Regions from separate parts of the Homo sapiens genome. Here all the other regions are reported to be linked to region 1. The links are microRNA targets in miRTarBase. Many come from high-throughput screens and were not tested one by one. Region 1 holds a microRNA gene; each other region holds the end of a gene's coding sequence.
Evidence for each region. The annotated mature microRNA hsa-miR-1224-3p reads CCCCACCUCCUCUCUCCUCAG and lies in region 1 at 1,829-1,849, shown strand. An mRNA with a match to its seed (bases 2 to 7 or 8) in the 3' UTR can be bound and repressed. Matches are read on the target gene's strand: a 7mer-m8 pairs with bases 2 to 8, a 7mer-A1 pairs with bases 2 to 7 and ends in A, and an 8mer does both.

Region 2: miRTarBase lists ANGPTL7 as a target of hsa-miR-1224-3p. Seed matches in the 3' UTR shown: 8mer at 1,155-1,162.
Region 3: miRTarBase lists ASB16 as a target of hsa-miR-1224-3p. The part of its 3' UTR that is shown has no 7-base or 8-base seed match.

What each region holds. Positions count from the first base shown.
Region 1 is chr3:184,239,641-184,242,668 of GRCh38, forward strand. It overlaps MIR1224 (microRNA 1224), which reads left to right and starts at 1,765; the gene lies at 1,765-1,849. VWA5B2 (von Willebrand factor A domain containing 5B2) reads left to right here. Exons shown (of 20, transcript NM_001390846.1): 16 at 49-396; 17 at 1,151-1,288; 18 at 1,384-1,467; 19 at 1,547-1,764; 20 at 1,850-2,689. The coding sequence ends at 2,398. ALG3 (ALG3 alpha-1,3- mannosyltransferase) reads right to left here. Exons shown (of 9, transcript NM_005787.6): 9 at 2,661-3,028. The coding sequence ends at 2,874. RefSeq lists a silencer at 2,281-2,575.
Region 2 is chr1:11,194,331-11,197,671 of GRCh38, forward strand. ANGPTL7 (angiopoietin like 7) reads left to right here. Exons shown (of 5, transcript NM_021146.4): 4 at 131-329; 5 at 524-1,651. The coding sequence ends at 693. The region is part of intron 28 of MTOR (mechanistic target of rapamycin kinase); the gene reads right to left. Among named protein-coding and RNA genes, the nearest start is that of ANGPTL7, 6.6 kb to the left of the region's middle. RefSeq lists a silencer at 149-349.
Region 3 is chr17:44,177,654-44,180,994 of GRCh38, reverse strand. ASB16 (ankyrin repeat and SOCS box containing 16) reads right to left here. Exons shown (of 5, transcript NM_080863.5): 4 at 3,273-3,341; 5 at 1,911-2,790. The coding sequence ends at 2,605. All of the region lies in intron 2 of ASB16-AS1 (ASB16 antisense RNA 1), which reads left to right. Among named protein-coding and RNA genes, the nearest start is that of ASB16-AS1, 7.4 kb to the left of the region's middle.

The DNA of each region.
Region 1 (3,028 bases):
AGCCCAGAGGACCACTCTGCCCATGCCCCTGCTGTCTTGCCTCCCCAGGAAACCTGCTCTCCCCAGCCCCTATGGACTGGGACATGCTGATGGAACCACCCTTCTTATTCACGGCTGTGCCTCCTAGTGGGGAGTTGGCCCCTCCAGCAGTGCCTCCCCAGGCTCCACGCTGCCATGTGGTGATCCGGGGCCTGTGTGGGGAGCAGCCCATGTGCTGGGAGGTGGGTGTTGGGCTGGAGACACTGTGGGGACCTGGAGATGGCTCACAGCCTCCCTCACCTCCTGTAAGAGAAGCTGCTTGGGACCAAGCACTCCATCGGCTGACAGCAGCCTCTGTGGTCCGGGACAATGAGCAGCTGGCCCTCCGAGGAGGGGCAGAGACCACAGCTGACCGGGGTGAGTTGCTCATGGGTCCAGTCAGGACCCAAAGGCATGGGCTAAAAACAGCAAAGGTAGAGGTCTGTGTGTTTGATCACTCTCTATACCTCGCTTTGATCACAAAGGATTTGAGGCTCATCACAGACAAGATAAAAAATTAAGCGGGACAATGGGAAAAAGTAAAAATAAAAGGAAACTGAGAATGAGGTTATATTAAAGGTGCATGCTGTGAGGTTATATACTCTTGCAAGGATCAGATCCAGAACTGACAAGCTTCCTAGCAGCCAGCACAGAGGGCAACGTGATCCTGTCATGATTCACAGCACCCACAACGTAAAAACAAATCTTTGTCATTTAGGAAAATACTTAAAGTTCATTTCCTCAGTTGCACTAACCACAGCTGAAGTACTCAATAGTCAAATGTGACTAGTGGCTACCACATTGGATCATGAAGAGAGAGAACATTTCCAAGTTTTATTAGTGCAGAAGCAGGTGGAGGAAAATGTGCCAGCTAATGCTTCCTCTGGGTGTTGTCCAGAGTGCTGAATTTCTGGGCAGCCAGGGGGCTCTTGCTCTGCTATGGGTTGAAGATTCAGCCTGATCACTTCTTGTCAAAGTTGGGGAGTCTGAGCTGGTTCTGGGCCTAGCAAGGCAATCTACTCTGTTAAAGTCGATAGAGGGAGAAGCTGGGGAGAACACTGCAATTTTTTCTATGAGCCCTCTGTAGAGGGTGGGTGGTGGGGGCTCCACAGACTGCTCCTTGGTTCCACAGGCCATGCCCGGAGGTGCTGGCTTCGAGCCCTTCAGACAAGTAAGGTCAGCTCTGCCCCCTCCTGCTTCACTTGCCCTGTAGCTGTGGATGCTACTACTAGGGAGGTCCTGCCTGGGGCCCTGCAGGTGTGCAGCTCAGGTAGGGGCCTCTTCTGGTGACCTCTCAGGTGCAGCTCTCACCTCACTGGCCACTCTCCTGGACAAACCTGACTCCTGTCCCATGTGCCCCTGCAGAGCCCGCTGAGCCCCCAGGAACCCCTCCTGCCTCTCACAGCCATCTAGATGCAGCTCCTCTGCCCACTGTTGTCTACTCTAAAGGTAACACCCAAAGGTAGGGAAAGGGTAGGGGCACTTGGGCTTAGAGACCGCCCCCTGGCACTGATGATCCCCACTGCAGGACTTCAGAGAGGCTCTCCAGCAGGCGCCTGGGACTCGGACCAAAATGGCAACTCCAAGCGTGCTTTGGGGGACCCTGCCACTCCCACGGAAGGTCCTCGCCGCCCACCTCCCCGTCCTCCCTGTCGGCTCAGCATGGGCCGCCGTCACAAACTCTGTAGCCCTGACCCGGGCCAGGCCAACAACAGTGAAGGCAGCGACCATGACTACCTGCCCTTGGTGAGGACTCGGGAGGTGGAGGGTGGTGCCGCCGGGGCCGGGCGCTGTTTCAGCTCGCTTCTCCCCCCACCTCCTCTCTCCTCAGGTGCGGCTGCAGGAGGCACCAGGCTCCTTCCGCCTGGACGCGCCCTTCTGCGCCGCTGTGCGCATCTCGCAGGAGCGCCTCTGCCGTGCCTCGCCCTTTGCCGTGCACCGCGCCAGCCTCAGCCCCACCTCGGCCTCATTGCCCTGGGCACTTCTGGGCCCTGGTGTTGGCCAGGGTGACAGTGCCACGGCCTCCTGCAGCCCGTCCCCCAGCTCGGGCTCTGAGGGGCCAGGCCAGGTGGACAGTGGGCGGGGCTCAGACACCGAGGCCTCCGAGGGGGCGGAAGGGCTGGGCGGCACCGACCTGCGGGGCCGGACCTGGGCCACTGCCGTAGCACTCGCCTGGCTGGAGCACCGATGCGCCGCTGCCTTCGACGAGTGGGAACTGACAGCGGCCAAGGCTGATTGCTGGCTGCGGGCCCAGCACTTGCCTGACGGCCTTGACCTGGCCGCCCTCAAGGCCGCAGCCCGAGGGCTCTTCCTGCTACTGCGCCACTGGGACCAAAACCTGCAGCTACACCTGCTGTGCTACAGCCCAGCGAACGTGTGAAGGCTGCCCCCTGCTGCTTGGGCTGGCGCCCCACCCAACACACTCAAGTCACTGCCGCCCAGGGCTGGCCTCTTGGTGCTGGGAAAGTGTAGGCTGGTGCCAGCCTGTCCCCCACTGCTTCTTACTCCCTCCCTAGAGCCCTCTTGCCCCCACAAAAAGTGCCTGCCTGTGCTCTCTCCCTCTCCTCCCACCCCACTCACACTCCCCTCCATCCTCTGAGCTCCCTGCAACACAGTGGAAGGGTAGAGAGCCACAGTCCCCAAATCCTATGCAATAAAGTGCCTCTTAGGACTGCTTGAGTGAATTCTTTATCTGCTCCATACGTGTCCCTCACAGCCTGGACCAGGCATCGGCTGCCCCCACCTCCATGTAGGTTGCACAGAGTTGGACTTAGCAAGGTTTATTTGGAAGGGCAGAGTCCAACCAACCCCAGGTCCTGAGGGTAGACTCAGGTCCTGAGGGAAAGGGGTGGACTTCAGTGGGCTTTCTTGCTGTGTTGGGTGCTCTTGGGGAAAGGCTGCGGGCCCAGCCAGAGCTGCAGCAGGATGACGGCATGGCATATGTGCAGGGCAGCAGAGCTGCAGGATGTGGAAGGGTATGTGTTCCAGGAGAGCTCGATGAGCCCCAGCA
Region 2 (3,341 bases), not on the chromosome of region 1:
AATAAAGTCTTATTAGATTCACACCTATAAAAAGATGTTTGGCTATGGGACTGTCAGGAGAGAAGGGGTATAGAGACAGCATGAAATGGAGCCTGCTGCACTTTCTTTAAGGCTCTGCTCCTCCTGACAGGACTGGGAGGGCAACCTGCGCTACGCTGAGTATAGCCACTTTGTTTTGGGCAATGAACTCAACAGCTATCGCCTCTTCCTGGGGAACTACACTGGCAATGTGGGGAACGACGCCCTCCAGTATCATAACAACACAGCCTTCAGCACCAAGGACAAGGACAATGACAACTGCTTGGACAAGTGTGCACAGCTCCGCAAAGGTGAGATTTGGGGGGACCGGAAAGGAGAAGTTCAGGTACAAGCTCATAATCCCACTTGAGGAGAAAGAGTGAATTATAACTGTACAGTTGATATTCCGGTTTTGGTATTCTTTCTGACCCTGGCTCTAACTCCTTACCTGATGTCTGGTCTATCACAGTCAACTTACTAGCACTGGGTCTGTTTCTCATGCCAGGTGGCTACTGGTACAACTGCTGCACAGACTCCAACCTCAATGGAGTGTACTACCGCCTGGGTGAGCACAATAAGCACCTGGATGGCATCACCTGGTATGGCTGGCATGGATCTACCTACTCCCTCAAACGGGTGGAGATGAAAATCCGCCCAGAAGACTTCAAGCCTTAAAAGGAGGCTGCCGTGGAGCACGGATACAGAAACTGAGACACGTGGAGACTGGATGAGGGCAGATGAGGACAGGAAGAGAGTGTTAGAAAGGGTAGGACTGAGAAACAGCCTATAATCTCCAAAGAAAGAATAAGTCTCCAAGGAGCACAAAAAAATCATATGTACCAAGGATGTTACAGTAAACAGGATGAACTATTTAAACCCACTGGGTCCTGCCACATCCTTCTCAAGGTGGTAGACTGAGTGGGGTCTCTCTGCCCAAGATCCCTGACATAGCAGTAGCTTGTCTTTTCCACATGATTTGTCTGTGAAAGAAAATAATTTTGAGATCGTTTTATCTATTTTCTCTACGGCTTAGGCTATGTGAGGGCAAAACACAAATCCCTTTGCTAAAAAGAACCATATTATTTTGATTCTCAAAGGATAGGCCTTTGAGTGTTAGAGAAAGGAGTGAAGGAGGCAGGTGGGAAATGGTATTTCTATTTTTAAATCCAGTGAAATTATCTTGAGTCTACACATTATTTTTAAAACACAAAAATTGTTCGGCTGGAACTGACCCAGGCTGGACTTGCGGGGAGGAAACTCCAGGGCACTGCATCTGGCGATCAGACTCTGAGCACTGCCCCTGCTCGCCTTGGTCATGTACAGCACTGAAAGGAATGAAGCACCAGCAGGAGGTGGACAGAGTCTCTCATGGATGCCGGCACAAAACTGCCTTAAAATATTCATAGTTAATACAGGTATATCTATTTTTATTTACTTTGTAAGAAACAAGCTCAAGGAGCTTCCTTTTAAATTTTGTCTGTAGGAAATGGTTGAAAACTGAAGGTAGATGGTGTTATAGTTAATAATAAATGCTGTAAATAAGCATCTCACTTTGTAAAAATAAAATATTGTGGTTTTGTTTTAAACATTCAACGTTTCTTTTCCTTCTACAATAAACACTTTCAAAATGTGAGTATCTTCTTTTTAAATTCTTACCATTACCACTTACAGCAGGATAAAAAGTTAAAGTTAAATCAGAGGGTGAGCAGTGACAGAGGCCCGGGGTTTGTTTTGGTGTTCAGGGCAACCAAGCGGGGAGCAGAAGCCAAAAGGGAACAGGTAAGGGACAAAAGGGCAGCAACCAGGACAATTCTTCATAAAGGGGATTACACGTCTGGGGCTGGGCAGTGAAGGCATCCAGCCTTATCAGACCCTCTATTCTACTTAGGATAGAGAAGCAAAAACAGGCCAGCAGACCTTACCCTAATGCTCGGGGCTAACCAAGTAAAAGTGGTGTGTGTGCGCTTTCTAACAAATAACCACTCAATCCTCTGTCCCCAAGAAAGCAAATATATTTACTGATATGTGAGCTTTAAGGAGATGGGGGTAGTTTATACTATCTCAGTGTTAGCCCTGATTTGGGATTACATCTCGGATTTAATTTGCCCTGTAGCAGATAGGTTAAAAAAGTCAATAGGTTGCAAGACGGATTGAACTAGTAGCAAGAGAACAATACTGTCAACAGAACACAGTTTTTTAAAGCAAAGACAAAAAAATAAGAAATAGCTGCACGCGGTGGCTCACGCCTGTAATCCCAGCACTTTAGGAGGCCGAGGCGGGTGGATCACGAGGTCAAGAGAGTGAGACCATCCTGGCCAACATGGTGAAACCCCTTTCTACTAAAAATACAAAAATTAGCTGGGCATGGTGGCATGCGCCTGTAGTCCCAGCTACTTAGGAAGCTGAGGCAGGAGAATCGCTTGCATCTAGGAGGTGGAGGTTGCAGTGAGCCAAGATTGTGCCACTGCACTCCAGCCTGGAGACAGAGCGCGACTCCATCTAAAAAAAAAAAAAAGAAAAGAAAAGAAAAGAAATAGCTGAACAAAGATGTTTTTGTGTAGGGCTACCCTAATTGTTTCAAAAAGAATTTAGGGAAGTTGACTCAAATGTATATACTAAAATAAGCTCTGAAAAAGCAGACAACTTGGTGAAGGGAAAATAAGAGTAGGAAAAATAAAACAAAGCCTGTGGGGGTTGGGGGAGGGTTAGTAGTAAAAACAGGTAAGATGTCTGGAATTTGTTGGAGGTAGACCAGGAATTTAGCTTCAAGCTCTCTAGCAGCCACTGTGAGGAAGGAATTCAATCCCTTACTGCAAAGCGATGTCTCCAAGGCCAGATCCAAGTAGTGGCTCAGGGACATAAAACCAACAGTGGGAAAAGACCCCTGAGAAGAATTTCCATGAGGCTCACCCACAGAACTAGGGGTAGTGCTATGAGCAACTTTGTCTAAGGCTGTTTCTTAAAACTTCCTTCAGTAAAGACGACAGTATACCACCACAACCGGGCTTAGGAAAAGCAGCTTTACAAAATCAGAAGTAAAAACTGCAATTGGAAGCAAAAAAAGAAAGGTGATGGGAAGACACAGGAGACCAGCAGAAGGGAGGCAGAAATGCAAGCTGAGCTGACTTAGCTGAGGACACCCAAAGAGCCGAGCACACTGGCTTTCCCCAGTAACAGCATTCATTCATTCACTCATTCATTCACTTTTTTATTGAGACAGAATCTCGCTGTCATCCAGGCTAGAGTACAGTGACGCAATCTTGGCTCATTGCAACCTCCACCTCCCAGGTTCAAGCAATTCTCCTGCCTTAGCCTCTCAAGGA
Region 3 (3,341 bases), not on the chromosome of region 1:
CGGCTGGGCAGAGGCGCCCCTCACCTCCCAGACGGGGCGGCTGGCCGGGCGGAGGGCTGACCCCCCACACCTCCCTCCCGGACGGGGCGGCTGGCCAGGCGGGGGGCTGACCCCCCTACCTCCCTCCCGGACGGGGCGGCTGGCCGGGTGGGGGGGCTGACCCCCCCATCTCCCTCGCGGACGGGGTGGCTGGCCGGGCTGAGGGGCTCCTCACTTCCCAGTAGGGGCGGCCGGGCAGAGGCGCCCCTCACCTCCCGGACGGGGCGGCTGGCCGGGCGGGGGGCTGACCCCCCCACCTCCCTCCCGGACGGCACGGCTGGCCAGGCGGGGGGCTGACCCCCCCACCTCCCTCCCGGATGGCACGGCTGGCCGGGCGGGGGGGCTGACCCCCCACCTCCCTCCCGGATGGGGCGGCTGGCCGGGCGGGGGGCTGACCCCCCCCCCACCTCCCTCCCGGATGGGGTGGCTGCCCGGCGGAGACGCTCCTCACTTCCCAGATGGGGTGGCTGCCGGGCGGAGAGGCTCCTCACTTCTCAGACGGGGTGGTTGCCAGGCAGAGGGTCTCCTCACTTCTCAGACGGGGCGGCCGTGCAGAGACGCTCCTCACCTCCCAGACGGGGTCTCGGCCGGGCAGAGGCGCTCCTCACATCCCAGATGGGGCGGCGGGGCAGAGGCGCTCCCCACATCTCAGACGATGGGCGGCCGGGCAGAGACGCTCCTCACTTCCTAGATGTGATGGCGGCTGGGAAGAGGCGCTCCTCACTTCCTAGATGGGATGGCGGCCGGGCGGAGACGCTCCTCACTTTCCAGACTGGGCAGCCAGGCAGAGGGGCTCCTCACATCCCAGACGATGGGCGGCCAGGCAGAGACGCTCCTCACTTCCCAGACGGGGTGGCAGCCGGGCAGAGGCTGCAATCTCGGCACTTTGGGAGGCCAAGGCAGGCGGCTGCTCCTTGCCCTCGGGCCCCGCGGGGCCCGTCCGCTCCTCCAGCCGCTGCCTCCCGGGCGGCGCTCGCCGGCGCGGCGGCAAAGACTGAGACAGCTCCGCTGCCCGCTGAACTCCATCCTCCCGGCGGTCGGGCGGCGGCGGCTGCGGTCGGTCGCGGCAGCGGCTCCGCTTCATATCTGCAGCTGGGGCCCGCGGGCGTCAGCGCCGCGACTGTCCCAGTCCGCACTGCCCCGGGCCGCAGCGCAGCCGCGCCAACCACCACCCGCGGCCACCATGGCCAGACGGGCTCCCTAAGCCACCGACCCCAGCCCGCGGTGCCTTCGAGCCTTCTGGGGCCTCCGGCGCCGCGACCTCCTCTGCGCTCCTCACGGAAGACTTTTTTTTTTTTTTTTTTTTAAGACGGAGTCCCGCTCTGTTGCCCAGGCTGGAGTACAGCGGTGCGCGATCTTGGCTCATTGCAACCTCCACCTCCCAGGTTCAAGTGATTCTCCTGCTTCAACCTCCTGAGTAGCTGAGATTACAGGCATCCGCCACTATGCCCGGCTAATTTTTGTATTTTTAGTAGAGACAGGGTTTCACCATGTTGGCCAGGCTGGTCTAGAACTCCTGACCTCGTGATCCGCCCACCTCGGCCTCCCAAAGTGCTGGGATTACAGGCATGAACCACTGCGCCTGGCCTAATTTTTTGTATTTTTAGTAGAGACAGGGTTTTACCATGTTGGTCAGGTTGGTCTCAAACTCCTGACCTCAGGTGATCCTCCCGCCTCAGTCTCCCAAAGTGCTGGGATTACAGGTGTAAGCCACTGCACTCAGCTTGTTTTAAAGAGTTTTGATTTTAGTGTGAGAGGAGCCACTGGAGGGCATGATCAGAGTTTGACTCCCAAAGACCATTCCAGCACCAATTCAGGGCATGGGTCTCAAGATCTCCCTTGGAGTGACAAAGGCAGGGCAGGCAAGCCAGTGCACGCAGAGACAGAGTTTGTCCCTCTTTAGGAGGCTGAACAGGTATAAGGGTGGCAGGAGAGGGAGGTGGTGGGCCACTAGAATCACTGGTTCTTGGCATGGGACCTGGATGGATAGAGGGGCCATCCACTTAAACACAGGAGGAGAAGGGAGGTGAAGGCCGAGTCTGGGAACAGGCCGAGTCTGCAGCCCTTCCTGCTGGAGAGAGGGTCTGAAGCTCAGGTCCGGCTAGAGGTCAGCAGGTGTCTCAAGAAGCCCATGGAGGAGTGAGGTGGACCAGGACAGCACGTGGAGTACAGAAAAGAGGGGCAGGCAACCAGGCGCAGTGGCTCATGCCTGTAATCCCAACACTTTGGGAGGCCAAGGCGGGTGGATCACCTGAGGTCAGTGTGAGACCAGCCTGGCCAACATGGTGAGACCCTGTCTCTACTAAAAATACAAAATCAGCCAGGTGTGGTGACTCATGCCTGTAGTCCCAGCTACTCGGAAGTTTGGGGCACAAGAATCGCTTGAACCTAGGTGGTAGAAGTTGCAGTGAGCCGAGATAGCGCCACTGCACTCCAGCCTGGGCAACAGAGTGAGACTAGGTCTCAAAAAGAAAAGAAAAGAGGGCCAGGAACTGGTCCTCCGCAGTTGGAGGCGGGGACAGGTGGGAGGGGCAGAACACACCATGGGACAGCCTGACATGGGGTTCACTGGATGCACCCCTCCACACGCAGCAGCAGGTAGTCCCTGAGGAGCGGGGGCAGTGGCAGCCGGGTGGCACCCTGCCGGCAGCGGCTTCCCAACCGAGCGCGCACAGCTAGTCGGGCCAGGTGCTGCAGCTGCCTTGGCTGGTTCACCATGCACAGGGCCGAGCTGTAGAAGGCTTCGTGCTCCTAGGCCAGGAGTGAAAGAAGGTCAGATGACCCTTGCCCTACCATCTGGGGGCAACCCAGCGGTGGGGGTCCTGGGATTTTGCAGCATGCACCCACCTGGGTGTTTCATGTGTCTCAAAGGACTCAGATTCAGAACCATAGAGGCCCTGCAGTGATAATGCGGGCTGGGGCTCCACTTCAGGGAAGGGTCTCCACTATGTCTATACCACTCCCACCCCAGAGAGCCTAGCACAGTGCCCACCAAGTTAAGAGATGCCAGATAAATGTCTGTGCTGATGCAAGTGAGGGAGGCAGGAGAGGTGTGTGGAGTTAGGGGTCAGCCTGGGGTACCGGGGGAGGGGGTACCCTGAAACCCAGGGGTGCCACTCTACCCATCCTCTCTACCCAGGGGCCCTCCTGCTGCTCCCTCCATGAGGCTGGTCCTGAAGGAATAGGCCTGTGGCTCGTCCCTCCTCCCCATCTCGGCCCTGAGGCAAACATACCTTCCACAGCTCTGGGAGCACCGCCTCCACCCAGGTCTCACAGGATGGGACACAAGGATAGGCATTAAG